3 separate regions of the Homo sapiens genome follow, and regions 1 and 3 are each linked to region 2. The links come from fine-mapping of genetic effects on gene expression. A gene starts in region 2. Each other region holds a variant in brackets. All regions are shown on one strand. Distances are between the middles of the regions.

Evidence for each region.
Region 1: its variant is fine-mapped to the expression of SHISA5 in whole blood (TOPMed, PIP above 0.99).
Region 3: its variant is fine-mapped to the expression of SHISA5 in whole blood (TOPMed, PIP above 0.99).

Annotation. Positions count from the first base shown.
Region 1 is chr3:48,519,413-48,530,141 of GRCh38, reverse strand. PFKFB4 (6-phosphofructo-2-kinase/fructose-2,6-biphosphatase 4) reads left to right here. Exons shown (of 14, transcript NM_004567.4): 10 at 4,473-4,577; 11 at 6,312-6,441; 12 at 6,543-6,605; 13 at 8,092-8,156; 14 at 10,336-10,729. The coding sequence ends at 10,395. Among named protein-coding and RNA genes, the nearest start is that of SHISA5, 21 kb to the right of the region's middle. The variant G/C (reference allele first, on the strand shown) is at 5,453.
Region 2 is chr3:48,498,373-48,509,101 of GRCh38, reverse strand. SHISA5 (shisa family member 5) reads left to right here and starts at 4,928. Exons shown (of 6, transcript NM_016479.6): 1 at 4,928-5,083; 2 at 7,809-7,965. The coding sequence starts at 5,008. RefSeq lists an enhancer at 3,843-4,396 and silencers at 4,734-5,213, 5,224-5,273.
Region 3 is chr3:48,474,415-48,484,533 of GRCh38, reverse strand. It overlaps SHISA5 (shisa family member 5), which reads left to right. Exons shown (of 6, transcript NM_016479.6): 3 at 5,277-5,357. Among named protein-coding and RNA genes, the nearest start is that of TREX1, 13 kb to the right of the region's middle. RefSeq lists enhancers at 5,013-5,062, 9,404-10,119. The variant C/A (reference allele first, on the strand shown) is at 5,315.

The sequences.
Region 1 (10,729 bases), 21 kb before region 2:
AGCTGGGACTACAGTTGTGAGACACCATGCCTGGCTAATTTTTGTATTTTTAGTAGAGACAGGGTTTCACCATGTTGGCCAGGCTGGTCTTGAACTCTTGACCTCAGGTGATCCACCCGCCTTGGCCTCCCAAAGTGCTGGGATTACAGGTATGAGCCACTATGCCTGGCCTATTTTATTTTATTTTTGAAACAGGGTCTGGCTCTGTCACCCAGGCTGGAGCGCAGTAGCACCATCTCAGCTCACTGCAACCTCCGCCTCCTGGACTCAAGCCATCTTCCCACCTCAGCCTCCTGAGTAGCTGGGACCACAGGTGTGCAACACTACGCCTGGCTAATTTTTGTATTTTCTGTAAAGATGGGGCTTCACCATATTGCCCAGGCTGGTTTCAAACTCCTGAACTCAAGTTGTGGTTTTATTTTTTATCTATTCTTTCTCTTCAGAATTGATAATCTCTTTCAAAAAAGTAAGCAATTTTTATAACTCATTTTGTAGCTCATTTAACCCATTTTGTGCTTGGTGGGGGTTATCCAGCCACTGATTTCTTTCTCACACAAACAGCAGCTACCTGAGGCAGGTTATAGGACAGTGTCTTCCCTCCAAATATATAGATTTGATGCTAACATTCAGTTTTGCAGAGAAGCCTGCAGCCACCCCAGTTTTTTTCCTTTGAAGTTAATCTGATTATTTTCCAAGATGCTTGTGGATTTCCTTCATCTTTCAAGTTTTGAAACTATTACAGTTTTTATGATCCATTAATCATCTTTCCATGTTTATCTTCTGATAAACAGCCTTGGGCTTGTCTTCTATTCCAACATTATGACTTTTTCTTAGTTTAATCCACAATTTATTGCCTTATAGTTCCTTTAAAAAAATGATAGCTTTATTGAGATATAATTCATATACCATAGAATTCACCCATTTAAAATATACAGTTCAGGCCATTTGTGGTGGCGCACACCTGTAATCCCAGCTACTCGGGGGGCTGAGGCAGGAGAATCACTTGAACCCAGGAGGTGGAGGTTGCAGTGAGCTGAGATCGTGCCATTACACTCCAGCCTTGGAGACAAGGCGAGACTCAGTCTCTAAAAAAATAAATAAATAAATAAATAAATAAATAAGTATACAGTTCAGTGGTTTTTAGTGTGTTCAGAGTTGTGCAACCATCACCACAATCAGTTTTAGAACATTTCATCACCCCAGATAGAAATCCTGTGCCCATCAACAGTCACTTCCCATTTCCCTCTAACCCTTCCTTCTGCCTTAAGCTACCACTAATGTTTTCAAGGTTTATTCGTGTAGCATGTAGCAGTATTTCATTCCTTTACATTGCCAAATAACATCCTATTATATAAATATACCACACATTATGTATCCATTCATCAGTTGATGGGCATTTGAGTTGTTGCCACTTTTGGGCTATGTGGATAATGCTGCTGTGAACATTCATGTCCAAGGTGTTTTCTATGTTTGTTTGTTTGAGACAGGGTCTTGCTTTGTTGCCCAGGCTGAGTGCAGTAGCACGATCTTAGCTCACTGCAGCCTCCATCTCCTGGGCTCAAGCAATCCTCCCACCTCTGTCTCCCAAGTAGCTGGGACTACAGGAACTCGCCACCACACCCAGCTAATTTTTGTATTTGTTTGTAGAGATGGGGTTTCATCATGTTGCCCAGGCTGGTCTCAAACTCCTGGGCTCAAGAGATCTACCTGCCTTGGCCTCCCAAAGTGCTGGGATTACAGACATGAGCCACCGCATCCGGCATAAGTTTTTGTGCGGACTTATATTTTTATTTCTCCTCACTGTACGCTAGGAGTAGAATTGCTGGGTCATATGGTAATTATACATTCAACCTTTTCAGAAACTGCCACACTGTTTCGCCATCTCACATTCCCTCCCGCAGTGTGTGAGGGCTCTGATTTCTCCACATACCCGCCTGCGCTTGTTACCATCAGTCTTGGTTGTAGCCGTCCAACATGGGAACTCAGTTTAGCCACATTCTCTGCCACTTTATAACATGGATTACCTTTTCTCTAGGGTCCAGGAAAAGGTACCTCATTTCCCCTTGTGGGCTCACAGAGGCACCTTTAATGTTCATATTTCTATCAACGTTCTTTTCATGATGATATATGTGCTCTTTACGATGGTGGAAGCTGGCCGGGCGTAGTGGCTCATGACTGTAATCCCAGCACTTTGGGAGGCCGAGATGGGCAGATCACATGAGGCCAGGAGTTCGAGACCAGCCTGGTCAACATGGCGAAACCCCGTCTCTACTAAAAATACAAAAAATTAGCCAGCCATGGTGGCCTGTGCCTGTAATCCCAGCTACTCAGGAGGCTGAGGCAGGAGAATTGTTTAAACATGGGAGGCAGAGGTTGCAGTGAGCTGAGATTGCACCACTGCACTCCAGCCTGGGCAACAGAGTGAGACCCTGTCTCAAAAAAAAAAAAAAAAAAAAAGATGATGGACGCTTTCTCTGTCATCCTCTTCACTTCCTTCTGTGCCTTCACCAGAATAATCTTTAATGTCTAAATTTCTACTAACAGTCTCTTCAAGACAGTCTAAGCTTTTTATCATGCACCACAAAATTCTTCCAGCCTCTACCCACTATCCCATTTCATAACCACTTCCACATTTTTAGTTCTTTATTACAGCAGCCAGCAGCACTTCACCTCCTGGTACCAAAATATGTGTTAGTATTCAAGTGTGGTGGCGCACACCTGTAGTCCCAGCTACTTGGGAGGCTGAGGTGGGAGGATCACCTGAGCCTGGGAAGTTTGAGGCTGCAGTGAGCCAAGATCACACCACTGGACTCCAGCCTGTGTGACAGAGTAAGACTGTCTCAAAAAAAAAAAAAAAACCACTAAATGTTAAAAAAAAAAAAAGTATTAGTTTACTAGGGCTGCCGTAACAAAGCACTACAGGTGAGTGGCTTAAAACAACATGAATTGATTCTCTCACAGTTCTGGAGGCTAGAAGTCTGAAATCAAGGCGTCAGCGGGGCCATGCTCCCTCTGAAGGTGCTAATAAAGAACGCTTCCTCACCTCTTCCTAGTTTCCAGTTGTTGCTGGTAATCCTTGGTATTTCTTGGCTCATAGCCTCATCACTCCAATCCCACCTCTGTCCACGGTCATCACATGGCTTTCTTCCCTATGTATGTCTGTCTGTGCCTTCACATGACATTCTTTTTTTTTTTTTTTTTGAGATGGAGTCTCGCTCTGTCACCCAGGCTGGAGTGCAGTGGCATGATCTCAGCTCCCTGCAATCTCTGCCTCCCGGGTTCAAGAGATTCTTCTGCCTCAGCCTCCCAAGTAGCTGGGACTACAGGCGTGAGCCACCACGCCTGGCTAATTTTTGTATTTTTTTAGTAGAGACGGGGTTTCACCATATTGGCCAGGCTGGTCTCAAACTCCTGACCTCATGATCCACCTGCCTCAGCCTCCCAAAGTGCTGGGATTACAGGCATGAGCCACTGTGCCCGGCCTACATGGCGTTCTTAAAAGGACACCAATGACTGGATTTAGGACCCACTCTAATCCAATATGTCCCCATCTTTTTTTTTTTTTTTTTGAGACAGAGTCTCATTCTCTTCCCCAGGCTGGAGTGCAGTGGCGTAATCTTGGCTCACTGCAATCTCCACCTCTTGGGTACATGCGATTCTCCTGCTTCAGCCTCCTGAGTAGCTGGGACTACAGGCGTGCGCCACCACGCCCAACTAATTTTTGTATTTTTAGTAGAGACGGGGATTCATCATGTTGACCATGCTGGCCTTGAACTCCTGATCTCAGGTGATCCACCTGCCTCAGCCTCCCAAAGTGCTGGGATTACAGGCTGTGAGCTGTGAGCCACCACGCCCAGCCAACTTTTCTTTTTTTTTCTTTTCTTTTGAGAGGGAGTCTCTCTCTGTTGCCCAGGCTGGAGTGCAGTGGCACAATCTCAGCCCACTGCAACCACTGCCTCCTCCACCATGTTGGCCAGGCTGGTCTTGAACTCCTGACCTCAAGTGATCCGCCTGCCTCAGCCTCCCAAAGTGCTGGGATTACAGGCGTGAGCCATCGCGCCCAGCCAGCTTTTTTTTTTTAATGGCATTTGTAGAAGATGATCTATGCTCTGTGTGTGTGTGTGTATCCCAAATAACACAAGTGAAGTTTTCCTTCATAGTTTGCATAACAACCTACACTCACAAGTACTATTTCCACAGCACAGAAAAGAAAAAACACATAGCATCTCTGTGTGTATTGGATGGGTGATGGATAGGTGGACAAGACCATCCTGGTAGCTTTTTACAAGCAAGGAACCACCAATGATCAGTGTTCCTAGAGGTCCTCCCCTCCTTAGACAGGTTTCTGTTCCCTTCACCCAGGAAATGCCCGTGAACTTGGTCTCTTCTGCTTGATGCTGCCTCACCCCACATGTCCCCAAGGCTCATCTTCTGGGCCTGTAGGAGGTGTGATGACTGTGGTATCTCCCTAGGGCGTCTGTGAGGAAATGACCTACGAGGAAATTCAGGATAATTATCCACTGGAGTTCGCCCTGCGGGACCAGGACAAGTACCGGTACCGGTACCCTAAAGGGGAGGTAGGTGGGATTTGGGGCTTAGTCCCAGCCACCTACTGCCCGCCTGGGAGTACCACCTGTGGCTGAGGGCCTGTGGGGCTCTGCAGGGGCTGCGTGGGTAGCAGAAGGGGCCTGGTCTCAGAGGCCTGCCAGCCTGGGTGTGTGGTTCATCTCCACCCCTTCCCAGCTATGCAGCCCAGGCCTTAGTCCCTTCCTCAGGTGTGGAGTGGGCAGTGCCATGTAGGGCAGGCCTTCAACCTGGAGACCTTTGGCTCCCTGCTCTCCATTCTTGTCTTTCCCCTTCCCAGGGGTGGAGAATTCGGAAGGGCAGGGCCTGAGGTGGGGGATCTGCGGAGTTAGGCTTTCCTGGGACCCCTGTAGACAGTGTGCGGTCCCCTGGCATTCCCAGGCCAGCTCCTTTCCCAGCGAGTTGTCAGCCCTTTCCGGGGCGCTCAAATGGCTGGGGAGTTGGGGAGACCATGGCAGGCCTGGGACTCGGGTCTCAGCTCACTCGAGTCCCTGTCTCGGGCCTCATCCTTCCTTTGGATGCTTCCTCTTGTCACAGGCTGAGCCCATCCTGTCCTTCCTGTGGCTCCAGGCACCACCCCCAGCCCTGGCACCAGACCCAGGGAGACCTTCCACACATGAGTTGGCTACCACAAGCCACTGCACTTGTCACCTTCTCTGACACAGTTCAGCCCAGGCCCCAGGTCAGAAACTGAGGGTCACCTTTGACTGAGGCATCTCCTTCCACTTCCAGGAGGTGGCCTGGGGCAGGGGCCAAATAAAAATACACCCCGTCAACACACATATGTACACATATATATACACATGTAGAAGCACCTCCACCCAGAAGCCAGGCTGACAGGTCTCTACACTGTACCATCCTCAGGATA[G/C]TATAGCTCTTGGGAACATTAATTATTCCCCACATTATGTTAGGCCAAGTTCAGATTTAGAACCAACCCAGATAACGGTCAGGAGAAACAAAGCAGCTGGCTGCTCAAACATGAGAATACAGTGAGGAGAATTGGTTGAGAAATTCATGTTACCAAAAGAACCGGTCTAGGATTTTCTCAGAACTACCAGGAACTGGCACAAATCAGCGTGTCATTTTTGCTTCCTAATCAAAGCTTGGGGCACGTTCAGTTCTGACTGCTGGAGGCCATTTTTGAAGGACCACTCATTGTGTGCAGAAGGATGAAACTGATGAAAATCTCTAAACCTGCCAGGTTGAGAGGCCCAGCAGGGGCCTAAACCGTACATCACGGCAGGCATAGGGGGAAGATACTGGGCAGGTAGACTGAGGATAGTTCCTGGGGACCCCAGCTGTTTCTGATGAGTCACACTCCAGAAAGTTCCAGGTCTTTGCTCTCTTCCCCTTCGCTCTTGTCAGTGCACTCTGTTTGCTGTGGGCTGGAAGCAGGCGAGGTCTTCTCCACCAGTCACATGAATTCTATAGCTGAGGATTCAGTGCAGAGCCCCATGGGTGGGCACTGAGGTGGACCCTGGGATGGAGCCTGAGGCCTAGCTCTGCGCTCTCAATCCTACCAGGACCTAGCCCTGAGGTGGGAAAGGTGGCCCCTTTCCTCAGCTGCCCACCCCCATGGCCTCAGAAGGCTAGGCTGGAGGAGGCCCAGCCACAGCTTCCCAGAATGGTGAGTAGCTGCAGGAGTGGAAGGTGGCCCAGTGTCCAGGATGTGTCTGTCCCTCCCCCGGAGCCAGGCCTGAGGGACCCCTCTCTGCTTGCCCTTGCAGTCCTACGAGGACCTGGTCCAGAGACTGGAGCCTGTCATCATGGAGCTGGAGAGGCAAGAGAATGTGCTGGTCATCTGCCACCAGGCTGTGATGCGCTGCCTGCTGGCCTACTTCCTCGACAAGGCAGCAGGTGTGGGCTGTGCCCCGGGGGAGGTGGGAAGGTTGTGTGAGAAGGTAGGCACTGTCACCAGGCATTTCTGGTGTGCTAGCCATCCCCCTCTGTGTCTACAGAACAGCTGCCCTACCTCAAGTGTCCGCTGCACACAGTCCTGAAGCTGACTCCTGTGGCATATGGTAAGGAAGCTTCCTGCACATTGACCATGGGTAGCCATGACCTTGGATCTCTGCACAGTTCCATGATTTTCTCCGAATTCCTTGAAAATTGTGTTAGGAGCCCATTCCTCCACCTACTACCCCACCACCTTTCCCAATTTGCTTTTTTTCTTTGAGACGGAGTCTCGCTTTGTCACCCAGGCTGGAGTGCAATGGCGTGATCTAGGCTCACTACAACCTCCACCTCCCGGGTTCAGATGATTCTCTTGCCTCTGCCTCCCGAGTAGCTAGGATTACAGGCGCCTGCCACCATGCCCAGCTAATTTTTGTATTTTTAGTAGAGACAGAGTGTCACCATGTTGTCAGGCTGGTCTCGAACTCCTGACCTTAGGTGATCTACCTGCCTCGGCCTCCCAAAGTGCTGGGATTACAGGCGTGAGCTACCATCATGAGCTACCATCTGCGGCCCTAATTTGCTTTTAAAAAGTTTGTTCTGGGGCTGGGTGCGGTGGCTCATGCCTGTAATCCCAGCACTTTGGGAGGCCGAGGTGGGTGGATCACGAGGTCAAGAGATAGAGACCCTCCTGGCTAACATGGTGAAACCCCATCTCTACTAAAAATACAAAAAAATTAGCTGGGCGTAGTGGCGGGCACCTGTAGTCCCAGCTACTTGGGAGGCTGAGGCAGGAGAATGGCATGAACCCGGGAGGCGGAACTTGCAGTGAGCCGAGATCGCACCACTGCACTCCAGCCTGGGCGACAGAGCGAGACCCTGTCTCAAAAAAAAAAAAAAAGTTTGTTGTGAAAAAGTTTATGTGGCCACAGAAGACCTCCCCAGTGACTTTGCTTAACCATTGCCTACCTGCATGAGGGGCTTTTCTACTGATTTTTCTGAACCCCCACAAGGCCCCTTGGTCCTCAGGGCCTGGACTTTATTCTGGGTGCAGGGCAGTGTGAGTCCCCACCCTGCCTCTTGCTATACCAGCAGAGACTTCAGGCAACTTCTTCATCTCTCAGGTCTTAGCTCTTCACCTTTAACACAGGTGCTCTTGGGGGAATGGCTGTGAAGCCCAGTGGCAGCTGATGTCACTCCAGTGTGTGACAATGGCCTCATCCCCCATTGCACTGTGCACCTGGCACACGGTTGACTGGGCCTTATATGGTAGAGTTGGAATGTGGGTGGTTTGGGGGCCCTGAAGACTTTGAGAGTCAGTAACCTCAACTTAGGCCTGCTGTTCCCCCGATCCCTCTCGGTCCTGGGGTTGGGGAGCCTGGGGCCTCTGTGTGGCCCTGTCTGGGCCGTCACATAGATATGCGTGGGTCTGACAGCGTGTCTCATCCTTCCTCCCGGGGCTCCCCAGAGCTGCCTAAAGTGGAAGAACTAGAGTGAGGCTGAGATGGCTGCTCCATTCCACACGCCCAGACCCCCCTCCAAGAGAAGTTTCTAGCATCTGCAGCTCAGCTGCCTTTCAGGAGTGGGGATGGATTTGCATCTTCCCTTTGGCAGGTTGTAAAGTGGAGTCCATATTCCTGAACGTGGCTGCTGTGAACACGCACCGGGACAGGCCTCAGGTAGCAATGGGGTCACTGCTGGGGTAGCGGGGTGTTCCTGATGTGGGGGTGTCCAGACTGCACATCCTCCAGGGCCAGGCCCAGCTGCGGCACCTGCCAGAGGGAGCTTGAGTCTTCTGCCAAGACTGTTGTCCCATCAGCAGGGCGGGGCCCTGGCTCTGGGTGGGGCCTGCATCAGGCCTTCCCAAGGCACCTGCCCTGGGGATGGGGAAATCCCTGACTCTGGGCCACCAGGCTCAGGAGTGCCTGAACTTGGGTGTGGTTGGAGCCCCAGGACTTGAGGAGCCACAGGGCTCCCAAGCAGCAACTTGGAGGTCTAAGTCAAGGGGGCCCTTGGGCTCAGTGAGAATGAGGCTGGAGGCTAAGAATGAGGCTTCTGGCCTTCTGAGGGCAGGTGGGCACTCTTCCCACTCCCCATCCCTGCAGCCGAGGCCTCATGAGCCCCTTTCCTAACCCCAGCACCTTTAAAAATTAAAATGGGATCATGTACTTTTGGGGAAAGGGCCATGCAGATACTGAAGGGGCCTCAGCATGGGGTGGAGACCTTGGTCCAGAAAAGCAGTCACCACCTGTGCTCCCCAAGTGCCTTGTGGAAGGTAGAAGCTCCTCAGAGTGTAGCTCAGAACCACTCTTAGTCCCATGTGGGGTCCCTCCACAATGTTGGCTCCCTCTCCCACTGGGGCCAAGGATAGGACCTACACTTCTGGGAGCCCCGGTCCCAGTTCCTGGAGGCCACTGCACGGAGAAGGCTCTTGGGCCTCAGTCATGCCTCTTGCCATCCATGATGGGGCCTGCTTGGGCTCTGGGTCCCTGCTGAGGATGCACGTCTTGGGCTGGACCAGGACATCTGGCCTTGGACCTCACAGCACAGGTGTGTAGATGTGTCCTGTCCCTTCCCAACACCACTGCCCCCAAGCAGGACCAGTTACCCTGCAGGCCTCTCTTCCCATTGCTCTGATAGTTCGTGCATGTCTTGGCCAAGTTCAGCCCAGGCCCAATTTGGTACCCACAAGTCACAGGGGAACGTACCTCCCAACGGGCATCCTTTGGGCCAAGGAAGGCCCAGATGGCACTGGGCCCCCAGCGCTGACAGAGTGATGGTAAGAGAGGCCCCTGGGTTGGCAGGGTGATGGTAAGAGAGGTCCCTGGGCCTGGCAGCCCTTGGGAGCTGACCCTACCAGTCCATCACCATAGTGTGGCTGGCGGTCATTCTGCCCACTATGGGTGGGTGCTTCTGAGAGGCAAACCGCTACTAACCCCAGGTTCCTGGATGGCTCCCTTCTGGCCCATCCATTGGGGCAGGCTGTGGTGGAAAAGGGGCGCCTCAGGAAGCCTGCCCAGCAGTAAGAATTATACCTGCCCCTACAATTCCAGGGGCCGGTCCTATGAGCCCAGGCTGTGGGCCATGGGGGCCATGTCTCTCTCCCTGAAGATCTGGGCATGTCATGTTGCATGGGGCAGCAGCTCAGGTCATCAGTGACCTGCTCCTGCAGGTGATGGTTCCGGGGCCCACAGCTGGGAGGAGGGGCCACCAGGCTCTGGGGCACATAAGACAGCCTCAGAGAGCTAAGGGAAGTTTCAGATTCCCTATTCCTCAGGCCTGAGACTCCCTGAGCCCGACAGGCCAAGGATGGGACTGAGCTCTGCAGTTTGGTGGGGTCCTTCTATAGCTGAGGGCTTCAGGAGGCCCTGTACCCCAGTTCTGAGGGGACAGACCAGGCTGCAGACCAGGAAATGCCCATAGGCTTCTGGGGCACCTCTGACACCTGCGTGCCAACACTTTAAACTAGGAAGGAGGCACCCCCAGGAGTTGAACCCCTTCCCTGCCCCACAGATGAGGATAAAATCCCCAAGCCAGGGGTTCCTCCTCAATTGACTCAGCCCTGAGATAGGAGGTGGGAGTGGCCTTGCTTTGGGTATTGCCTGACCTGGCTGCAGTGGAGCAGGAAACGAGGTGGCATCCTCCACCGCACCTTTGTTCTATTGTCCATCCACCCGCTATGTGGCACGAAGCTCTTGGCCATGTATTCTTAGGGAAGCTTGTGGTCTAGAGTCTTGCGGCTGTGGCTGCTACAGTGAGAATGTGAAGCCTGATGAACCACAGTGATGAGGACGGCAGACAGCAGGCATCTCATCTATTCCTGCCATGGAGTGAACGCTCTGTGTTTTTATTGTACAGAACGTGGACATCTCAAGACCTCCAGAGGAAGCCCTTGTCACGGTGCCTGCTCACCAGTGACCATGTTCATCCACTGTGACCACTAGGCAGGCACTGCTCTCTGCAGAGGGGGTCATTCCAGGCCCTCCAGTGTGTGTGATAGTCACCATGCCATGCAGGGATATTCTTGAAGCCACACATGGCTGGCGGAACCCAGAGCCCCCACCCCAGCCCACCTGGCTCTTTGTTGACAGTCGGCGACAAGGTTGTGCGTGGCTCCTGACCTGCTGCTAAGAGTCACTTGACCAGACTGCATCTGCATGGGCTGCGCGGAGGTTGCCCAGCCCCAGTTTCTTCCGGCGCAGCTCTTAGGTGTTCACTCTCGCCAGCTCAGTTGGCTTTGTGAAGTGTGAAA
Region 2 (10,729 bases):
CAAGTTGCCAGAGCCCTTTCCTTCCTCAGGCCTGGACTTCCACTGCTTTTAGCTCCAACCAGGCAGATGACAAGTCGGACACCCCCATTTCCCTGGGCATCTGCTACCATTCCTGATGGGGACTAATTTTTTAAAAAAAATTATTTATTTTTTATTTCTCTCTTTCTCTCTGTCTCCCCTTTTTTTATTTTTTTATTTTTTGACAGAGTCTTACTCTGTTACCCAGGCTGGAGTGCAGTGGCACGATCTTGGCTCACTGCAACCTCCACCTCCCAGATTCAGGTGATTCTCATGCCTCAGCCTCCCCAGTAGCTGGGATTACAGGCATGCACCACCACACCCAGCTAATTTTTGTATTTTTAGTAGAGACGGGGTTTCGCCATGTTGGCTAGACTGGTCTGGAACTCCTGACCTCAAGTGATCTGTCCGTTTCAGCCCCCCAAAGTGCTGGGATTACAGGCGTGAGTCACAACGCCCAGCCTAGTTTTCTCTTTTTTTTTTTTTTTTTTTGAAGCAGTCTCGCTCTGTTACCCAGGCTGGAGTGCAGTGGTGCGATCTCGGCTCACTGCAACCTCCGCCTCCTTGGTTCAAGTGATTCTCCCACCTCAGCCTCCTGAGCAGCTGGGATTATAGGTGCACGCCACCACGCCTGGCTAATTTTTTTTGTATGTTTAGTAGAGATGGAGTTTCGCCATGTTGGCCAGGCTAGTCTTGAACTCCTGACCTCAGGTTATCCACCCGCCTCGGCCTCCCAAAGTGCTGGGATTACAGGCTTGAGCCACCTTGTCCAGATGTTTTCTTTTTTTTTTTAGGTTTTTTTTTTTTGAGACAGAGTCTTGCTCTGTTGCCCAGTCTGGAGTGCAGTAGTGCAATCTTAGCTCACTGTAACCTCTGCCTCCTGGGCTCAAGCAATCCTCCCTTGTAGCTGGGAATACAGGCACGCATCACCATGCCCAGCTAATTTTTGTATTTTTTGTAGAGACGGGGTTTTGTCATGTTGCCCAGGCTAGTCTCAAACTCCGCGCTCAAGAGGTATCTGCCTACCTCTGCCTCCCAAAGTGCTGGTATTACAGGCATGAGTCACCACGGTGCCCGGCCCTGGTGAGAACTTCTCTGTCAGTTGGAGGAAACTGACTCTGCCCAACTTAATCAGAAACCCAATTTATGAAAAGCAACTGTGGAGCCCTCAGAGCCAACAAGGCGGCTGGAAAGAAAGGTTCCAAGTCGAAGCAGTATCGTCTCCAGCCCAAACCACAGTGCTACTTTGGCCTGGTGAGCATGCCACTGCTCCTGCCACGAGGGGGAAGCAGGGGCCTTTGTGACTCACACAGCCCTCCCCACAGGTGCAGACTCATGTTTCTGCCAGGACTGCTGCAGCCCTCCATCAAAGCTGGTGGCCAGTACCCCTGACTGACTCCAGGGAGGCTACATCTGATTGGTTGGGGCTGGGCAAAAGCTCTTGCCCTGGGGCAAAGGAATCTGAAAAAGATAATATCTAGCGTGTTCCTCCTCTGATGTGGAGGAAAGGGGACCAGGTGCTGAATGAAGAAGAATGGCAAGGATCCTTGAGCAAGCGTTCCACTGTAGAACTCACCGATCTGGTCCTGCAGTCAGTCCTGGGGCTGGGCTGATGGCCTCATTCTCACCTGGTTACTCTCACCCTGGGCTTTACAAGCATCAGTGGGTGTTGCTTTGCTCCACCAGCCTGATGCAGAGTTCTCACCTACAAACTGTAACCAAGGTCCCAGCAGAACACAGTCATTCTTAACAAACTGGGTATTTGAGGAGAGTTTGATAAAAGTGCTGTTGCACTTTGGGAGGCTGAGGCGGGCAGATTGCTTGAGCCCAGGAGTTCGAGACCAGCCTGGGAAACATGGCAAAAACCCTACTTCTACAAAAAATACAAAAATTAGCTGGGCGTGGTGGTGTGCATCTGTGGTCCCAGTTACTCCAAAGGTTGAGGTGGGAGGATCACCCCAGTTTCCTGGGGAAATTGGGGCCGCAGTGAGCCGTGACTGCACTCCAGCCTGGGTGACAGTGAGACCTTGTCTCAAAAAAAAAAAAAAAAATTGCTGTTTACAGAGCTGTAGGAAGGTTTGGGGAGCCACCTAGCTTTGGTACAGCATCTGGGCCAAGTCCTAGCCTTGGTACAGCATCTGGGCCAAGTTTGGTTTCTGCCTTGGAGGGGTCACTTTCCCCAGGCAACTTGTATTTCCAGGCTTTGCAAGCCTGAGCTGCAGAGACAAAACTCCTCAGACACCGAGTTAAAGAAGGAAGGGGTTTATTTGGCCGGGGGCATCGGCAAGACTCCTGTCTCAAGAGCAGAGTCCCCCGAGTGAGCAATTCCTGTCCCTTTTAAGAGGGTGCTCGTGAGAGGGTCGTGATCGATTGAGCAAGCAGGGGGTACGTGACTGGGGGCTGCATGCACCAGTAATTAGGTCAGAACAAAACAGGATAGGGATTTTCACAGTGCTTTTCTATACAATGTCTGTAATCTATAGATAACATAACTGATTAGGTCAGGGGTCGATCTTTAACTACCAGACCCAGGGTGTGGCGCCGGGCTGTCTGCTTGTGGATTTCATTTCTGCCTTTTAGTTTTTACTTTTTCTTTCTTTGGAGGCAGAAATGGGGCATAAGACAATATGAGGGGTGGTCTCCTCCCTTAGACCCACAGAAAATGCCTGCACACATGGGCACATGCCTGTGAGATGCATGGTTGCGATTTCCAAGCCACTGGGGTGATCCTAGCCTCCACTCACTCCTGCCCATGCACAGCCCTGGGTGGAGCCCAAAACACCCACCAAGCTCAACCATGAGCTGTGGGCAGATAAGAGGGTATGGGAGAGCCAAAGACCAAAAAAGTAGGGAGGAAGAGGCCAGGTGAGAGGCCCCTAAAGGATCTGGGGTTGGGGGCAGCAGAGTAGAGAAGCCAAAGGCAAGCATAGGAGGTGGGAAAGGACAATTCTTTTTTTTTTCATTTTTTTTTTTCGAGATGGAGTCTTGCTCTGTCACCCAGGTTGGAGTGCAATGGCGCGATCTTGGCTCACCACAACCTCTGCCTCCCGAGTTCAAGCGATTCTCCTGCCTCAGCCTCCTGAGTGGCTGGTATTACAGGCATGCACCACCACACCTGGCTAATTTTGTATTTTTAGTAGAGACGGGGCTCTACTGAACATGGAGATGTTGGTCCATGTCTATCCAACATGGAGATGTTGGTCAGGCTGGTCTCAAACTCCCAACCTCAGGTGATCTGCCTGCCTCTGCCTCCCAAAGTGCTGGGATTACAGGTGTGAGCCACTGCACCAGGCCTTGTTTTTCTATTTTTGAGACAGGGTCTTGCTCTGTTGCCCAGACTGGAGTGCAGTGGCACAATCATAACTGCAACCTTCATCTCCTGGGCTCAAATGATCCTCCCACCTCAGCCTCCCAAGTAGCTGAGACCACAGGTGCTTGCTACCATACCCAGCTAATTTTAAAATTTTCTGTAGATATGGGGTCTCCTTATGTTGCCCAGGCTTAGAACAACTCTTAGGAGCTTGGCTGGGGGGCAGGGACTGGAAAACCAAGGAACAAGAAACCAAGCTTGTGGATGGTGCAGAGTGGAATGAGCAACCTTTAGGGAGGCAGAGGGCTGGGCACCCAGGGTGTGGAACACAGGATGGCTCTAGAGCTGGACATGAGGAGCATACACTGGCCATTCTGCAGAAGGGGGACCTAGGCTGCACCCAGCTTTGGAGAGTGGCGCTCAGGAGGCAGAGGTGGGATAACCAGGCTGGGCTGTCAGGGAGGATGTGACTCCAGTCCCTCACTAAGACCCTCCCAGAGGGCATCCTGCCTGGGAACTGTCATATCCCTGCCCCCCACATGTGTATTGAGCACGGTGAGTCTTAAGCCCTTCTTGGCCAGGAGGTGATGGGGGCTTATTGGAGACCCAGGCCTTCCTCTCCCTGTTCTAACACCCTAGCCTGGGAAACTACTGGGAACATCCCAGATTGTCCCCTTGGGTTTCTCTTTGTCCACAGCGATGCCCCCACCTTTAGGTGAGAAATATATGGTGGCACACAGGGTGCACAACCCAGCCTGGGTGCCCCACTAGTGTGACATTTCACGTTTTCTGTCTTGAGTGAAATGTTCTGATTGTGCTAGGTGCAGAGTGGGGGTGGGTCAGGAACTCTGGGCATAAAAGGAAGAATGACTCAACATCCCTGATTCTGCCTGGACCCCTGCCCCGAAGTGAGGGGGCGGAGCCCTGTGTGGGAAGTTGGCCTGGCTGTGTGCCCTGGGAGCTGCCAGTTTCTAGCTCAGTCCTGGCCCACTGCGCCAGCGCTGAGCCTGCCAGGGCTGGGGCTGGGGATCACCTTGGGATGATGGTGTCAGTCCCAGGGGGCAGGAGATCGAGTGTCCTCTGAGCTGGCGACTGGGCCTGTAGAAGGGAACCGGCATTTGTGGAGTGTCTACTGAGTGCCAAGGTCTGCGCTGGGCACTGTCCTCGCACCGCCTCACCTAGTCCTCACGTAGCCCTCGGGCAAGTGAGGATCCGCCGGGACTGCGGCTGGGAGGGATGGCTGTGGCTGTCCCCCAGCCCACACAGTAGGCGCTCAGTGTCAGGGTGCATATTCCCGGGGACGCCCTCCAGGCCTGAGAGCTGGGGGCCGCCGCCGCCCCCCATGCATCCGGTGAGCAGAAGGAAACTCCGTGCGTCGCCCGGCGCCTGTCCGAGTCTGGGAACCGGTACCAAGTTTTCGCGCAGACCCCGGGCGCGAAGCTGGCCCCGAGGCTGGGAAGTCGTCCGCTTCCTTCCTTCCTCCTCCTTCCACCTTCCTCCCTCCTCCCTCCTCCCTCCTCCTCCCTCCTCCTCCTCCTGCTCCCCCGGACAGAGGTTCCGGGAACCAGCCGGGCCGGGGCGGGGCGGGGCGAGGGAGAGGGGCGGCCGCGCGGATCACTGAGGCTGTGGCGGCACTGCGCCCGGCGCTCGCGTCCGTCCGCCCGTCCGCCCGCCCAGCCATGACTGCGCCGGTCCCCGCGCCGCGGATCCTGTTGCCGTTGCTGTTGCTGCTGCTGCTAACGCCGCCTCCGGGTGGTGAGCCGGGGGTGGGGGCGGCCCGTCCTGCCCTGGGACCGGGCAGACACTTCCCCGCGCTGCCTCTCCAACGAGCCGGGCAGCACCAGCCCCACTATGCCCCCCACTGACCCCTGATTGCCCCGAGGCCGTCAGCGAACCCCCACGACTGCGGACCCCTCCTCCACCCCAGCACCCTCCTTGCCTGAACAACCCTGCCTAGACACCAGGCAGCTGCCACCTTTGTCTGTCCTGGAACGGTGGGGAGGGGTCTGCCCTCCCGCCCATGTTCCAGGGGATGGAGTCCCCAGAGGCTAGGGTAGGGTTCCCTGCCTGGCTTTAGTCTGGCGGGTGGCTGCAGGGCGAGCTGGCCCCTCCATCAGAGGCCTTCCCTCTTTGCCTCTGTTTAATGTCTGGGAGCCCCCACCGCTGCCTCCGTTGGCCCTTGTGTTCCTGTAGAGCCCGGCGCTGAGGCTGGCCTCTGGGGTGGAGACACCACTGTGTGTGTTGGTTGCAGATAGGTGATTCACAGAGTCTGGAAGGCTGGCTGGGGGCGGGTCCTTTAAAGGGTTAGGAATTGGAACAATCCCCTGCCCACCCATGGGAAGCCAAAGACCCTTTTGGGGTGGGTGGCTTCGTGGAGGGGAAGGCTGTATTTCCTGGGGGCTGGGATGAATCCAGAGGACCTGGGCTAGAGAAATGAGAAAGGGGAGACTTGTGCCCAGAATCCGCCCACTCCTGGAGTGAGCCTGTAGGAGGGTCGGTCACTGATTCAGTGAGGTCTGGGGGTCAGAGAGCATTTGTGCCATGGACTCAGCCTAAACAGCCTCACCGGTGTGTCTTCAGCCCTAGCTCAGAGGCTCAGATTGGGCTGTGAAGACCTTGCTGCATATGGGTTCACCTGAGCCACCAGGCACGGGCCATGCTGATGATACCAGCTTTCAGGTGGGCAGCTGGCCAAACTGGGCTTGTCAATGGTCCAATCCTCTGCTCCATGGCTTTGCCCAGAGCAGGGTTCTGCCTGGAGCTGCCAAGAAGTGCAGTTCCCCCCAACTCCCCACTAAAGTTCCCTCTTCCCAAGGAGGTCACTTGGTGTCTCTGTCTCTGGGCTTCACTCTACTGACAGCCTCGGGGTGTGTGGTGTCCTGATCAGGCCCGGGCACCAGATGCTGCACATGGCCAGGTGCCTGGCCTGGCTGGGTCTCCAGAGGCCACGTGCTATGGCAGACTGTTTCCAGGCCGATGTAGTTATGCCTCAGGGCTATCATCAGACCTGTCCCCTGCCTACTGCGGACTTGTGGGCCTTGCTGGACTAGGTATTCTCTTTGGAGTCTGCCCTGGCAGAATCCGGTACTGTTCCTTCCTGTTAGTGGGCACAGGTCTCTGCTAATGTAGCCTGAGGATACATGGGAACATTTGACTGTAGCATCTTCCTGGAGGTTTGTAAACCTTGTGGTCATCCAAAAACCTGGGTTATTTTCCACATTTGTTGTCAGCCAGATCCCCTCAGCATGACCTCGTTTATTGAGACTTGTAAGGATGTCAGTAGATCCCAACTCTGTGCTGAGAGTCTTGTGATGGCTCCAGGGCTACAGATGGTGCCACTGCCTTGGAGCCCTGTTGCCCAGGCTGGTCTCAAACTCCTGGAAGGCACAGACATTTCCTGGACACCTGCTGCAGGCCCAGCGCGGGGCTAAGTGCTTTATGAACGCTGGTATGGTGGGTGTGACAATTTCTGACCAGGATCTAGCCTGCCATCATGGTTATGGGGTGGTCTGTGAGAGCCAGGCCCCTGCAGTTGTGGTGCCCAGCAGGGGCTGAGGTTGCTGTGGTTGAGTGAGGGAGAGAGTGAACGAGGATTAAGAACTAGACAGTCTGGCTGGGGTGCGGTGGCTCATGCCTGTAATTTCAGCACTTTGGAGGCCAAGATGGGTGGATCACCTGAGGTCAGGAGTTCAAGACCAGCCTGGCCAACATGGCGAAACTCTGTCTGTACTAAAAAATACAAAAAATTAGCTGGGCCTGGTGGCAGGCACCTGTAATCCCAGCTACTCGGGAAGCTGAGGCAGGAAAATTGCTTGGATCTGGGAGGCAGAGATTGCAGTGAGCTGAGATCGCACCACTGCACTCCAGCCTGGGCAACAGAGTGAGACTCTGTCTCAAAAAAAAAAAAAAAAAAGAAAGAAAGGGACAGTCCAGTGTCTGGTCCCCTGCAGGTGTTGAGCTGTGTGACTTCTCGCCTGGGCAGCTTCTGGAGGAGGCCACCTGGAGTAGGGCCTTGAAGGATGAGTAGAGTTGAAAGGCAGGAGATAGGAACCAGGCAAGAATGTGAGCGGAGTGTGGACAGGTTGGAGAGCTGGAGTGATCTTCAGGACTCTGCAGTTTAGACCCTGCTTGGAAACTCGGGCCTTGATCCTGAAGCAGTGGGAATTAGGGGAGGTTTGAGAGCAGGGTGTGGCCCCATCAGACTCACATTGAGAAAGTTCACCCTCCTATCAGGAGGCCAGTGCACTGGTGAGGGAGAGAGGGAGCCCAGTTAGGGCAGCTCTGTTGTGGCCCGTGGGATAGGGCAAGGCTGAGGGGGAGCAGTGGCCAGGGGTCAGAAGGTGGCCTGTGGCTAGGGTGGCTCAGAGACGGTGCAGCATGTGTGTGTGTGTGTGGTCTGGTGGCTGTGCCAGGGAGGGCGCTGTGTCTGCTGGGGCCTGGCCCGTGGGCACAGGTGAACAGATGTGTTTCTCCTCTCCAGCACGTGGTGAGGTGTGTATGGCTTCCCGTGGACTCAGCCTCTTCCCCGAGTCCTGTCCAGATTTCTGCTGTGGTACCTGTGATGACCAATACTGCTGCTCTGACGTGCTGAAGAAATTTGTGTGGAGCGAGGAAAGGTGTGCTGTGCCTGAGGCCAGGTGGGTGCACCAGTGGGTCACAGGGTGGGTGGCTTGAGCCTGTGCCCCACAGGAGAGTATGTGGAAGAGAGATAGCTCTGCCCCTCTGGCCTCTCAGCCCTCTCAAGATGGTGGCCAGAGCATTGGAGCAGAGGGTTTAGGGATCCCCTGTTCTGGGCTGGACCCCCTAGACCTGCTCAGTTAGTCCCCTGTCCATCTCCTCCCTACCCTGAGGGCTCCAGCTTGCTGAGCCTTGGGCTGAGCAGGTTTCTTAGAGGTCCTTGGCCTCAGCTGGTCCTGTGACTCACCCCGGGTGTGTACCTGTGCCAAGATGTCCTCAGGGTGGGTACTTGGGCTTGACTATACCCCACAGTATGCGCATGCCCCTGAGGGGTATCCTTTGTTCAGAACCCGCTTGTGGAGCCTGTAGGGTGCAGTGCGTAAGCATGTGCCCCAGTGTGAGCTCTATCTGTGTCCTCCCAGCGCAGCCTATGAATTTACCTGCATGTTGGGTGTAGACTGTTTCATGGCTGGGACCAAGGTTCCAGGCCCCTGTGTGTGGCTCTTTGCCGTATTCTGTATTTCCTTTGTGTTTGGCCTCGGTGTAGAGGGTTGAGATGGTCATACTCCTCTGCTCATGGCAGGTGATCATCCTGGGTCTGGGCAAGACCAACCCCCGCTATCTTACATATTTATTTTTGTGAGATGGAGTCTCACCATGTTGCCCAGGCTGGTCTCATACTCCTGGGCTCAAGCCATCCTCCTCCCTCAGCCTCCTGAGTAGCTGGAACTATAGGTGTGCACCACCATGCCTGGCCTATATATTTACTTTAATATGTCAGGACCATTTCATTCCTTTCCCACCCCACAGGCAACCGTCTGCTATGGTCTGCTATGTATAAGGTACATCCTTTTCATTATTTGAGTTCTTGCAAAGTCGGTGTAGTGTAAGACCTAGCCACATTGCTGTGGCACATCTGGCCCTTGCCCACTACTGCTGTGTCCCTCTGAATGGTGTGAATCCACAATGGTTGTCATGATAGATAGCTTCAGTGGGCATCTGGTATACCTCCTTTTATGGAGCTGTGTAAGAATTCTCTTGGAAACACATCTGGTTGTGGAGTTGCCATGTCATAGATGCACACAGTTATCCACTAAGGACTTCCAGGTGCTCTTGGGAGTGGTGCACAGGGCTGCACACCTGTCAGTCCTGCCTGAGGGTTCCTGACAGGTCTTCTTCTACCCTTTCACCCTTTCACTTCACCTTTTGGCTTTTTTTTTTTTTTTTTTTTTGAGACGGAGTCTCACTTCTGTTGCCCAGGTTGGAGTGCAATAATGTGATCTCGGCTCACCGCAACCTCCGCCTCCCGGGTTCAAGCAATTCTCCTGCCTCAGCCTCCCGAGTAGCTGGGATTATAGGCGTGCACCACCACACCTGGCTAATTTTTGTATTTTTGTATTTTTTTTTTTTTAGACAGAGTCTCGCTCTGTCACCCAGGCTGCAGGCTGGAATGTGGTGGTGCGATCTTGGCTCACTGCAAGCTCCGCCTCCCAGGTTCACGCCATTCTCCTACCTCAGCCTCCCAAGTAGCTGGAACTACAGGCGCCCGCCACCACGCCCGGCCTAATTTTTGTATTTTTACTAGAGATGGGGTTTCACCATGTTCACCAAGCTGGTCTTGAACTCCTGACCTCAGGTGATCTGCCCATCTTGGCCTGCCAAAGTGCTGGGATAACAGGCATGAGCCACCGCGCCTGATGGTATTTCTTTTTTTAAAAGCAGGAGCATTTATTCCATTTAAATTTAATGTAGAGGGCCGGGGGTTGCTGTGGCTCATGCCTGTAAGCCCAGTACTTTGGGAAGCTGAGGTAGGAGGATCACTTGAACCTAGCAGGTTGAGACTGCAGTAAGTCGTGATTGGTGCCACTGCACTCCAGCCTGGGCAACAGAGTGAGACCTCGACTCAAAAATAAATTAATTAATTAATTTAATGTAGTTATTGATATTCTGGGGTTATATTTGCATCTTTTGTGCTATTTGTCTCTCCTGCATTATCTTTTTTTTTTTTTTTTTTGAGATGGAGTTTCGTTCTTGTTGCCCAGGCTGGAGTGCAATGGTGTGTTCTTGGCTCACCACAACCTCCACCTCCTGAGTTCAAACAATTCTCCTGCCTCAGCCTCCTGAGTAGCTGGGATTACAGGCATGTGCCACCACGCCCGGCTAATTTTGTATTTTTTAGTAGAGACAGGGTTTCACCGTGTTGGCCAGGCTGGTCTTGAACTCCCGACCTCAGGTGATCCTCCTGCCTCGGCCTCCCAAAGTGCTGGGATTACAGGCGTGAGCCACCGCGCCCGTATGCATTATCCTTTTTTTACTTCCTGTATTGTTTCGATTTGTTTTTACGCCATATTTTTCTTCGACTGTTACTTCTTCTTTTCCATTCTGTCTTTTTTTTTTTTTTTTTTTTCTTTCTGGAGACAGTCTGTGTCTCCCAGGCTGGAGTGCAGTGGCGCGTGATCTCATCTCACGGCAACCTCCACCTGCCAGGTTCAAGCAATTATCCTGCCTCAGCTTCCCATGTAGCTGGGACCACAAGTGCATGCTGCCACGCCTGGCTAATTTTTTGTATTTTAGTAGAGACAGGGTTTCACTGTGTTGCCCAGGTTGGTCTCGAACTACTGAGCTCAGGCAATCTGTCTGCCTCGGACTCCCAAAGTGCTAGAATTACAGGCATGAGCCACTGCCCCCAGCCTTCTTTCCTATTCTGAATGTCTTATTTCTTTT
Region 3 (10,119 bases), 24 kb after region 2:
ACCTCCGCCTCCTGGGTTCAAGCAATTCTCCTGTCTCCGCCTCCTGAGTAGCTGGAATTACAGGCAGGTGCCACCACGCCCCGCTAATTTTTGTATTTTTAGTAGAGACAGGGTTTCACCATGTTGGCCAGGCTGGTCTCAAACTCCTGATCTTAGGTGATCCGCCTGCCTCGGCTTCCCAAAGTGTAGGGATTACAGGCATGAGCCACCGCACCCAGCCCACATATTTCTTAAAAAATATTTTCTCCTCAGCTTTACTGGTTTTCCTCCAAGTGTATTAGGGTATAATTGTTTATAACGCTTTTACATTTTATTTTGTTTTACATCTAATTTTGGAAAGTTTCAAATAAGTACAAAAGCAGAGAGAACAATATAACTCAATGCATCCATCACCCACTTCCCGTTACCAATACTCTGACACCATTGTGCTATATATGTCCCACCACTTTTCTTTTTCTGAATTATTTTAAAGCAAATCCCAGACATCATAAAAAGTTCTTCTTAAATATTAGTATTTGGCTGGGTGCAGTGGCTCACACCTGTAATCCCAGCACTTTGGGAGGCTGAGGCAGGAGGATCACTTGAGTCCAGGAGTTTCAGACCAACCTGGGCAATATAGTGAGACCTTATGTCTACAAAAAATTCAAAAAATTAGCTAGGTGGGGTCAGCCCCCCGCCCGGCCAGCCGCCCTGTCCGGGAGGGAGGTGGGGGGGTCAGCCCCCCGCCCGGCCAGCCGCCCCGTCCGGGAGGGAGGTGGTGGGGTCAGCCCCCCGCCCGGCCAGCCGCCCCGTCCGGGAGGGAGGTGGGGGGGTCAGCCCCCCACCCGGCCAGCCGCCCCGTCCGGGAGGTGAGGGGCGCCTCTGCCCGGCCACCCCTACTGGGAAGTGAGGAGCCCCTCTGCCCGGCCACCACCCCGTCTGGGAGGTGTACCGAACAGCTCATTGAGAACGGGCCAAGGTGACAATGGCGGTTTTGTGGGATAGAAAAGGGGGAAAGGTGGGGAAAAGATTGAGAAATCAGATGGTTGCTGTGTCTGTGTAGAAAGAAGTAGACATGGGAGACCTTTCATTTTGTTCTATACTGAGAAAAATTCTTCTGCCTTGGGATCCTGTTGATCTATGACCTTACCCCCAACCCTGTGCTCTCTGAAACATGTGCTGTGTCCACTCAGGGTTAAATGGATTAAGGGCGGTGCAAGATGTGCTTTGTTAAACAGATGCTTGAAGGCAGCATGCTCCTTAAGAGTCATCACCACTCCCTAATCTCAAGTACCCAGGGACACAAACACTGCTGAAGGCCGCAGGGTCCTCTGCCTAGGAAAACTAGAGACCTTTGTTCACTTGTTTATCTGCTGACCTTCCCTCCACTATTGTCCTATGACTCTGCCAAATCCCCCTCTGCGAGAAACACCCAAGAATGATCAATAAAAAAAAAAAAAAAATTAGCTAGGTGGGATGGCATGTGCCTGTAGTCCCAGCTACTTGGGAGGCCGAGGTGGGAGGATCACTTGAGCCCGGGAGGTCATAGCTGCAGTGAGCTGTGATCACACCACTGCATTCCAGCCTGGGTGACAGATGAGACCCTGTGTCAAAGAGAAAAAGGCCGGGCACGGTGGCTCACACCTGTAATCCTAGAATTTTGGGAGGCCAAGATGGGTGGATCACAAGGTCAGGAGTTCGAGTCCAGCCTGACTAACATGGTGAAACCCCATCTCTACTAAAAATACAAAAATTAGCCGGGTGTGTGGCACATGCCTGTAATCCCAGCTACTCAGGAGGCTGAGGCAGGAGAATCGCTTGAACCTGGGAGGCAGAGGTTGCAGTGAGCCGAGATTGCACCACTGCACTCCAGCCTGGGCGACAAGAGACGAGACTCTGTCTCAAAAAAAAAAAAGTGAGTTTTCATTGCTAAAAATGAGGTCCTTGAAGGCAAATATAACTATTTCCCTTCCAATATAAGGGCAATATAACCACTATCATATTTGGCACAATTAACAGTAATTCACTGATAGCTTTAAATACTGTGTTCAGTTGCCTCCACTAGTTTCCAAAATGCCTTTTCACAGATGGTTTGTCCAAATCGGAATCCAAATAATGTTATTATGTTATTTTATTTATTTATTGTTTTCGAGACAGGGTCTCAGTCTGTCGCCCAGGCTGGAGTGCAGTGGCGTGATCACAGCTCACTGCAGCCTGGAACTCCTGGGCTCAAGTGATCCTCCCACCTAAGCCTCCTGAGTAGCTGGGACCACAGGTGTGTGCTATTGCACTTGGCTGCCCTCCTTTTTCGTGGTTAGTCTTGTCAGAAGTCTATTAGCTTTGGTTTGCTAATCTTCTCTATTATTCTCTATGGCTATTCTGGTTTATTTTTGCACTTACCTTTATTAATTTCTTCCTTGTTTTTTGGGTTTTCCATTACTTTTTTTTTTTTTTTTGAGACAGAGTCTTTTTTTTTTCTTTTTTGTGAGACAGAGTCTCACTCTGTCCCCCAGGCTGGAGTGCAGTGGCATGATCTCGGCTCACTGCAACCTCTGCCTCCCGGGTTCACACCATTCTCCTGCCTCAGCCTCCCGAGTAGCTGTGACTACAGGTGCCCGCCACCACGCCTGGCTAATTTTTTTTGTATTTTTAGTAGAGACAGGGTTTCACTGTGTTAGCCAGGATGGTCTCGATCTCCTGACCTTGTGATCCACCCGCCTCGGCCTCCCAAAGTGCTGGGATTATAGGCGTGAGCCACTGCACCCGGCCGAGACAGTCTTGCTCTTTTCACCCAGGCTGGAGTGCAATGGCATGATCTTGGCTCACAGCAACCTCCACCTCCCAGGTTCAAACAATTCTCCTGCCTCAGCCTCCCGAGTAGCGGATTACAGGCGGCCACCACCACACCAGGCTAATTTTTGTAGTTTTAGTAGAGATGGGGTTTCGCCACGTTGGCCAGGCTGGTCTCGAACTCCTGATCTCATGATCCGCCCTCCTCAGCCTCCCAAAGTGCTGTTATTACAGGCGTGAGCCACCAACCTGGCCACATTTTCCATTACTTTTAAAGAAATCATCTTGAGTTTATTTTATTTTATTTTATTTTATTTTATTTTTTTGAGACAGAGTCTCGGTCCATTGCCAAGGCTGGAGTGCAGTGGCACGATCTTGGCTCACTGCAACCTCCACCTCCCGGGTTCAAGCAGTTCTCTGCCTCAGCCTCCCGAGTAGCTGGGATTACAGGCGCCTGCCACCACACCCAGCTAATTTTTTGTATTTTTAGTAGAGACAGGGTTTCACCATCTTGGCCAGGCTGGTCTTGTACTCCTGACCTCATGATCCACCCACCTTGGCCTCCCAAAATGCTGGGATTACAGGCGTGAGCCACCACGCCCAGCTCATCTTGAGTTTAATATCATCTTATTTATTTATTTATTTATTTATTTATTCTTATTATTTTTCAAGATGGAGTCTCGCTCTTGTCGCCCAGGCTGGATTGCAATGGTGTGATCTCGGCTCACTGCCGCCTGCACCACCTGGGTCGAAGCAATTCTCCTCCCTCAGACTCCAGAGTAGCTGGGATTACAGGTGCCCGCCACCACGCCTGGCTAATTTTTGTATTTTTAATAGAGACGGGGTTTTACCATATTGGCCAGGCTGGTCTCGAACTCCTGACCTCAGTTGATCTGCCTGCCTCGATCTCTCAAAGCACTGGGATTACAGGCATGAGTCACTTCCCCTGGCCCATATCATTTATTTTTAACCATTCCTGTTTTCTGATAAATTATTATTATTTTTGACATTTGAGTCTTGCTCTGTCACTTAGGCTTGAGTGCAGTGACGTGATCTGAGCTTACTGCAACCTCCGCCTCCTGGGTTCAAGCGATTCTCCTGCCTCAGCCTCCCGAGTAACTGGGATTACAGGTGCATGCCACTGAGCCCGGCTAATTTTTGTATTTTTAGTAGAGATGGGGTTTCACCATCCTGGACAGGCTAGTCTCAAACTCCTGACCTTGAGATCCACCCTCCTCGGCCCCCCCATTTCTTGATAAATTCTATTAAAGATACAAATCTCCCTCTAAGAACTATTTTATCTGTGTTTCACGAATTTTGATGTATTTTCATCATTTAGTTCTACATACTTGTTAGTTTCCTTTATTACTTCTTCGTGATCATGATATCTTCTCCCCTGCCAGGTAAGTATCCTTTATGAGTTCTTATTTAACACAATACAAATCAAGAGTTTTGGTTTTATTTTGCTTTTTTTTTTTTGTACCTTCTTAGTTTCCCAAGGTAGGAGTTTTTTGTTGTTGTTGTTGTTGTTGTTTTAGTACTTTTTAAAAAAACTCTGTGGAGGCCAGGCGTGGTGGCTCACGCCTGTAATCCCAGCACTTTGGGAGGCCAAGGCAGGTGGATCACGAGGTCAGGAGATCGAGACCATCCTGGCTAACACGGTGAAACCTTGTCTCTACTAAAAATACAAAAAATTAGCCGGGCGTAGTTGTGGGCGCCTGTAGACCCAGCTACTCGGGAGGCTGAGGCAGGAGAACGGTGTGAAGCCGGGAGGCGGAGCTTGCAGTGAGCCGAGATCGCGCCACCGCACTCCAGCCTGGGCGAGAGAGCAAGACTCTGTCTCAAAAAAAAAAAAAAAACTTTGTGGAAATGTAGGCCAGGTGTGGTGGCTAACGCCTGTAATCCCAGCACTTTGGGAGGCCAAGGCGGGCAGATCACGAGGTCAGGAGTTCGAGACCAGCCTGGCCAATATGGTGAAACACTGTCTCTACTAAAAATACAAAAATTAGCTGCGCATGGTGGCGGGTGCCTGTAATCCCAGCTACCCAGGAGGGTGAGGCAGGAGAATCGCTTGAACCTGGGAGGCGGAGGTTGCAGTGAGCCAAGATCGTGCCTCTGCACTCCAGCCTAGGTGACAGAGGAAGACTCCATCTCAAAAACAAAAAAAAATTATAATAAACTTTGTGGCAATGTGGTTACTGATTTGTAACTTCATCCTGTTGTGGTCAGAGAAGATCCTTTGTATGGTATCTGTCTTCTAAAATCTGCTGAGACTTGTTTTGTGGCCTAACATATGTTCTCTCCTGGAGACAGTCTGGTGGACACCTGAGAGGATGTGTGGCTTTGTGCTATGAGATCCCGGTGTGGGCAGAGTCCACCTCTGGAAGGCCATTGAAGCCACCGGTTCATAGTAGCTTCTGTGCACGTTTTGTGGTGCCCTAAGGTAGTGTTTGTGCTGGCGCTCGGTGGGGCTTCATTGTGCTAATCACAAGGTTTCCTGTTTGCAGCGTGCCTGCCAGTGTAGAGCCGGTGGAGCAGCTGGGCT[C/A]GGCGCTGAGGTTTCGCCCTGGCTACAACGACCCCATGTCAGGGTAAGTAAAGCCTGCTGGCTGGGTGCATCTTCCTGGCAAAGGTGACAAGAGGGCTCAGGGGGGCCAGTGTGCATCTGGGGGACTGGGATGATTCGGTCATTGGGGTGGAGCCCAAGAAACTGTCACCATATCTGACCACTAGGACACTTGCTCCTTATGCTGTGAAGGTGTCTTCATTAGTGTGCTGGGGTGGTGGGGACGTGGGTGACTGTGGTCGGGGGTTGACAATTGAAGGGCCAGGGGTCCGGGGTACATTGACCTAGATGCTGGGTTGAGTCAGCAGATGACTGATGGGTCCCGATGGGGGCAGGAGTGACAGAGAAGGGGCTGTAGTGGGCATGCGATGATGGTAGATGGGGGCGGGTATATTGTGATTGGGCATTGGTGACAATGGTGATGGTGATGGGGTGATGGTGGTGCTGGCAAGCACATGGTATTGGGGTGATAACGGTGGGGAGAGGTCCTGGGACAACCAATGATGCCACAGTTCCTGTGTGAAGCTTTGTGGGTCATGGTTACTGTGTCAGGACTCTCCTCTCAGGGAACCAAGGAGCAACCCCAGCCCCCAAACCCCAGTCCCCTTGGCTGGGCTCCGGCCTGTGTTATTGCCACCGTAACAGGAGTTGTGACATCTTCCTGGAGGTGGAATGGGTGTGCAGCCACTAGGGCGGGCTTTCCTGCCTGGGTCTGTTCCACTTGCTGTCTCCCCTCTTCCCTGGTGGATCTAGAAGCCGCTTAAAGAAAAGGTCTGCCCAGGAGGGCAGGGTTTCCCCTTTGGAGGAAGAGACCTTGGGCTCTGGGCCTGAGTGGGGGGCTTGGGTTCTTGTTTTGCCCCATCCCATCCTGTAGGCCCAGGCAGGTGTGGGGCCTCACTGGCTACAGCAGAATCAGGGCAGGGCTCCTGTGCGTGGAGGAGGGGAAGAAGTGCAGCTGTGCCCCTCCTCAACACCTCAGGGCTGGTTGGAGCCTGAGATCTCTACAGGCCTTCCCCTCCACGTCCAGGAGCCCAGGAGCGGCTGTCCTGCCCTGAGGCCCAGGATTGTGGGCTTTCAGATGGCCCCGTGGGAGATGCCTATGCCCAGCCTGTGTGGGCCTGGAGGCAGTCAAGGAGTGGGCCTCGTCCTGAGGACAGTGGGCATCACAGAGGGTTCTGGGAGCGCTGGGGACCGAATGGAGTTTTAGGAAGACCACACTGGCTGCTCTGTGGAAGATGGAAAGAGCAGATGGGGTGGGTGTGGGAGGTGGGAAGTCGTTTCTGTAGGAGGTGGCCTCAGGCGGCTTCCTGGCCAGAGGCGCTGGAGGCCAGAGAGAGCCAGAGAGAGCCAGAGCTTGGTGGCAAGAGGTGAGGATGGAGACTTACATTCAGCAGCTCCCACAAGGCAGGGTGTGGAGGGAGTGGGAAGGAGCAGGGGCTGGACACTGGAGGAGGGCAGGCTTGTGGTGAAGTGCGCTGTGGAATGGAGATTTCACACCACGGAGTCCATGGCACCCTGGGCAAGAGCGAGGCAGTGGAGCAGATTGAAGAGCAGTTGGAAATTGTATGCTGGTCGCAGGCAACTCCTTGGAGAGTTTTAGCCGTGAATGGATGAGGAGTAAGACAGGCATTGAAGCTGGGCACAGTGCCACACTTCTGTAGTCCCAGCTACTTGGGAGGCTGAGGCAGGAGGATCGCTGTAGGCCGGGAGTTCAGGGCTACAGTGAGGTATGATCCTGCCTGGGAATAATCCCTGCACTCCAGCCTGGGCGACCCCGTGTTTTTTGTTTTTTGTTTTTAAAAGGGAGGCCGGGCGTGGTGGCTAATGCTTATAATCCCAGCACTTTGGGAGGCTGAGGTGGACAGATCACCTGAGGCCAGGAGTTCAAGACCAGCCTGGCCAACATGGTGAAACCCTGTCTCTACTAAAAATAACAAAAATTAGCTGGGCGTGTTGGCGGGTGCCTGTAATTCCAGCTACTCTGTAGGCTGAGGCAGGAGAATCACTTGAACCCAGGAGGCAGAGGTTGCAACAACAAAAAAAAGGAGTTGGAGAATCCATGTGAAGGGTTGTTCTGTTTCTTTTTTTTTTTTTTTTCTCAATGTTATAGATTTGAGCTGGGACAACAAGGAGGAGACAGTGCGGAACAAGCTCCCAGAGGGGCATAGGAGGAGGAGTGGCTTCCTGGGGTTGTGGCAGCAGGGAGGTGACTGGGGCCAGCTCAGAGGCACCTCTGACTCCCCAAGGTGTGCATGTGGGACCTGTTCTGTTAGCCCAGCTGCCGCCGTGGTGTGCATAGCACTGGGCCTCGTGTGCCGTGTGCTTGGCGTGCCCTGCTGCCTCCTGCCCCAGGCTATTTTGCCCATGCATCGAGAAGAGCAGGTGACTGGAGTGATGCTCCCCCTCCCGCGCCTCATGTCATCTCTTGTCCTCTGCTTTGTTCTGAGCCCCAGCTCATGCCTAGGACCTGCTTTATAAAGGTGCAGGAGCCAAAGAAGTGGGTGCTGGGAGGAGGGGAGGGGGACAGGGTCATCAATGACTCCTCTCTTTTGAACTCTCTCAGGTGGCTGCCTGTCTGGGTCCCAAGGAGACATCCTCTGCTGGGCATCCATGTGCTGCCTACTTGGCCAAGGGCACTGTTTGTCCACTGGAGAGTTGGCTCCATGTTGAGGGCCTGGCCCCTGCTGTCGAGGCCATGGCCAGGAGCTCAGGAGAAGCCAGGCAGGGGAAAGACCCCAGGCCAGGAGCCCCACCCCAGCTCTGCCCCACTCTCTGCCACTGACCCCTCCTCCTCTCCTTATTTTGGGACCCTTGCCTCTGGCTATCTCCCTCTGGGCTACTTTTTTTTTTTTTTTTTTTTGAGATGGAGTTTCTCTCCTGTTGCCCAGGCTGGAGTGCAGTGGCACAATCTCTGCTCACTGCAACCTCCGCCTCCTGGGTTCAAGCAATTCTCCTGCCTCAGCTTCCTGAGTAGCTGGGATTACAGGTGCCGGCCACCATGCCCGGCTAATTTTTGTATTTTTAGTAGAGATGGGGTTTCACCATGTTGGCCAGACTGGTCTCGAGCTCCTGACCTTGTGATCTGCCCGCCTCAGCCTCCCAAAATGCTGGGATTACAGGCTGAGCCACTGTGCCCGACCTGGGCTACTTTTTGAGTTCCCTAGGCATGAGGCAGCAGGCTGGAGCCTGGATCCAGATGGGCCCACATCTGCCTGGCCCAGAACCCCTGCCGCAGGAGGATGCCACCCATGGCAGGGGTTATAGTGTGGCCCTATTTGTGGGCTCAGGGTTGGCCCAGGTCTTCTGCCCCCTAGACTTTGGCAAGTGAATCTCTGTTTAATGGTGAGTGGCTCCAGCCATTCTTGCCTTATTCACTCCCCAGATAGTCTCCTGGTTGTTTTGGATCCTACTGTCATGTCCTCTTCCCAGCTCCTTGCACTCACAGGACTGTCGGGCAAGACTGTTGGGTTTCTAAGTACCGAATGGCAGAAGCTCTGGCTGCAGACCCCAAGGAGGCCACCACTGACCCTCTGCTGTGACTCCACTGCCACAGTGCAGGGGAAAGGGAGAGAGGCCCATTAGGCGAGGTGTGGCCACAGCCCCGGTGCTACCTCCCAGCCCTCAAAGCGTCCTTTCTGTGGTTCTCAGGCCCTCAAGCCTGTCTGGGGCCTTGCTGACACCAGGGTGGGGGTGCGGGTATCCCAGGTCCAGAGCCAGCCTGTTCACTGTCTAAGGTTTGGAGTCTTCCATTTCTTGGAGGCCGCCGAGTTCTCCCCAGACCCTACAATCCTGCCCAAACTCCCTGCCGGGGTGGCTGCCCCTCTGCCTTCTGCTCCCTCCTGCTTGGGCCGACTCTGCCTTTTGAGCTTGGCCCCAGCCTTGGGAGACCCCATTCCTTCCTCTCGGAGGCGTAGTTCCATTGGTACTGTAGCCACGTGTGGCCTTGTACCCTAGCCCCGCTCTGCAACCACCCCTTGAATGTTGCTTGGTTTTCTAAGGTCACCGTGCCTGGGTGGGGTCTCTGAGTGAATTTATTCATTTACCTGTCCAATATTTATTGATTAATTCACAACATTATGCAAAAATTTTTTTTTTATTGAGCACTCACTATATGCTAGGCACTGGAAATATAGTGGTGGCCGAAAGCTGTATTGGATGATAATGGTACAAAGCAGGGGCAAGACGTAGTTGATCAAATGCTCACACACAACAGAGTGTGTGTTTATGAACTGAAGTAGAAAGGAATTTAATTCCGTGCGGGCATGTGCTGAGGGGCCTGGCCTCTTCTGCATGGTGGGGAGGGTGCTCCTGGGGAAGTGACCTGAGGCCTGAGGGGTGAGCAGGAATGAGTTAGGTGTGGCTGAGATGAAAGGAGGAAAGGGCTGAGCTGGCAGGAGTATCTGCATGTGCAAAGGCCTTGAGCAGGACACAGCATGGTGCTTTCAAAGCTGAAAGGAGGGGGATGGGACTCAGCACAGAGGTTGAAGGAGAGGGGGCAGTTCCAGACCACACATGGCTTTGTGGGCCTAATAGGGAGTTTTATTTTATTTAAAATTTTAATTAAAGGCCAGGCACGGTGGCTCAGGCCTGTAATCCCAGCACTTTGGGAGGCCAAGGTGGGCAGATCACCTGAGGTCGGGAGTTCGAGACCAGCCTGGCCAACGTGGTGAAACCCCATCTCTACTAAAAATACACAAATTAGCCAGGTGTGGTGGCACGCACCTGTAGTCCCAGCTTCTCGGGAGGCTGAGGCACGAGAATCACTTGAACCCGGGGAGGCGGAGGCT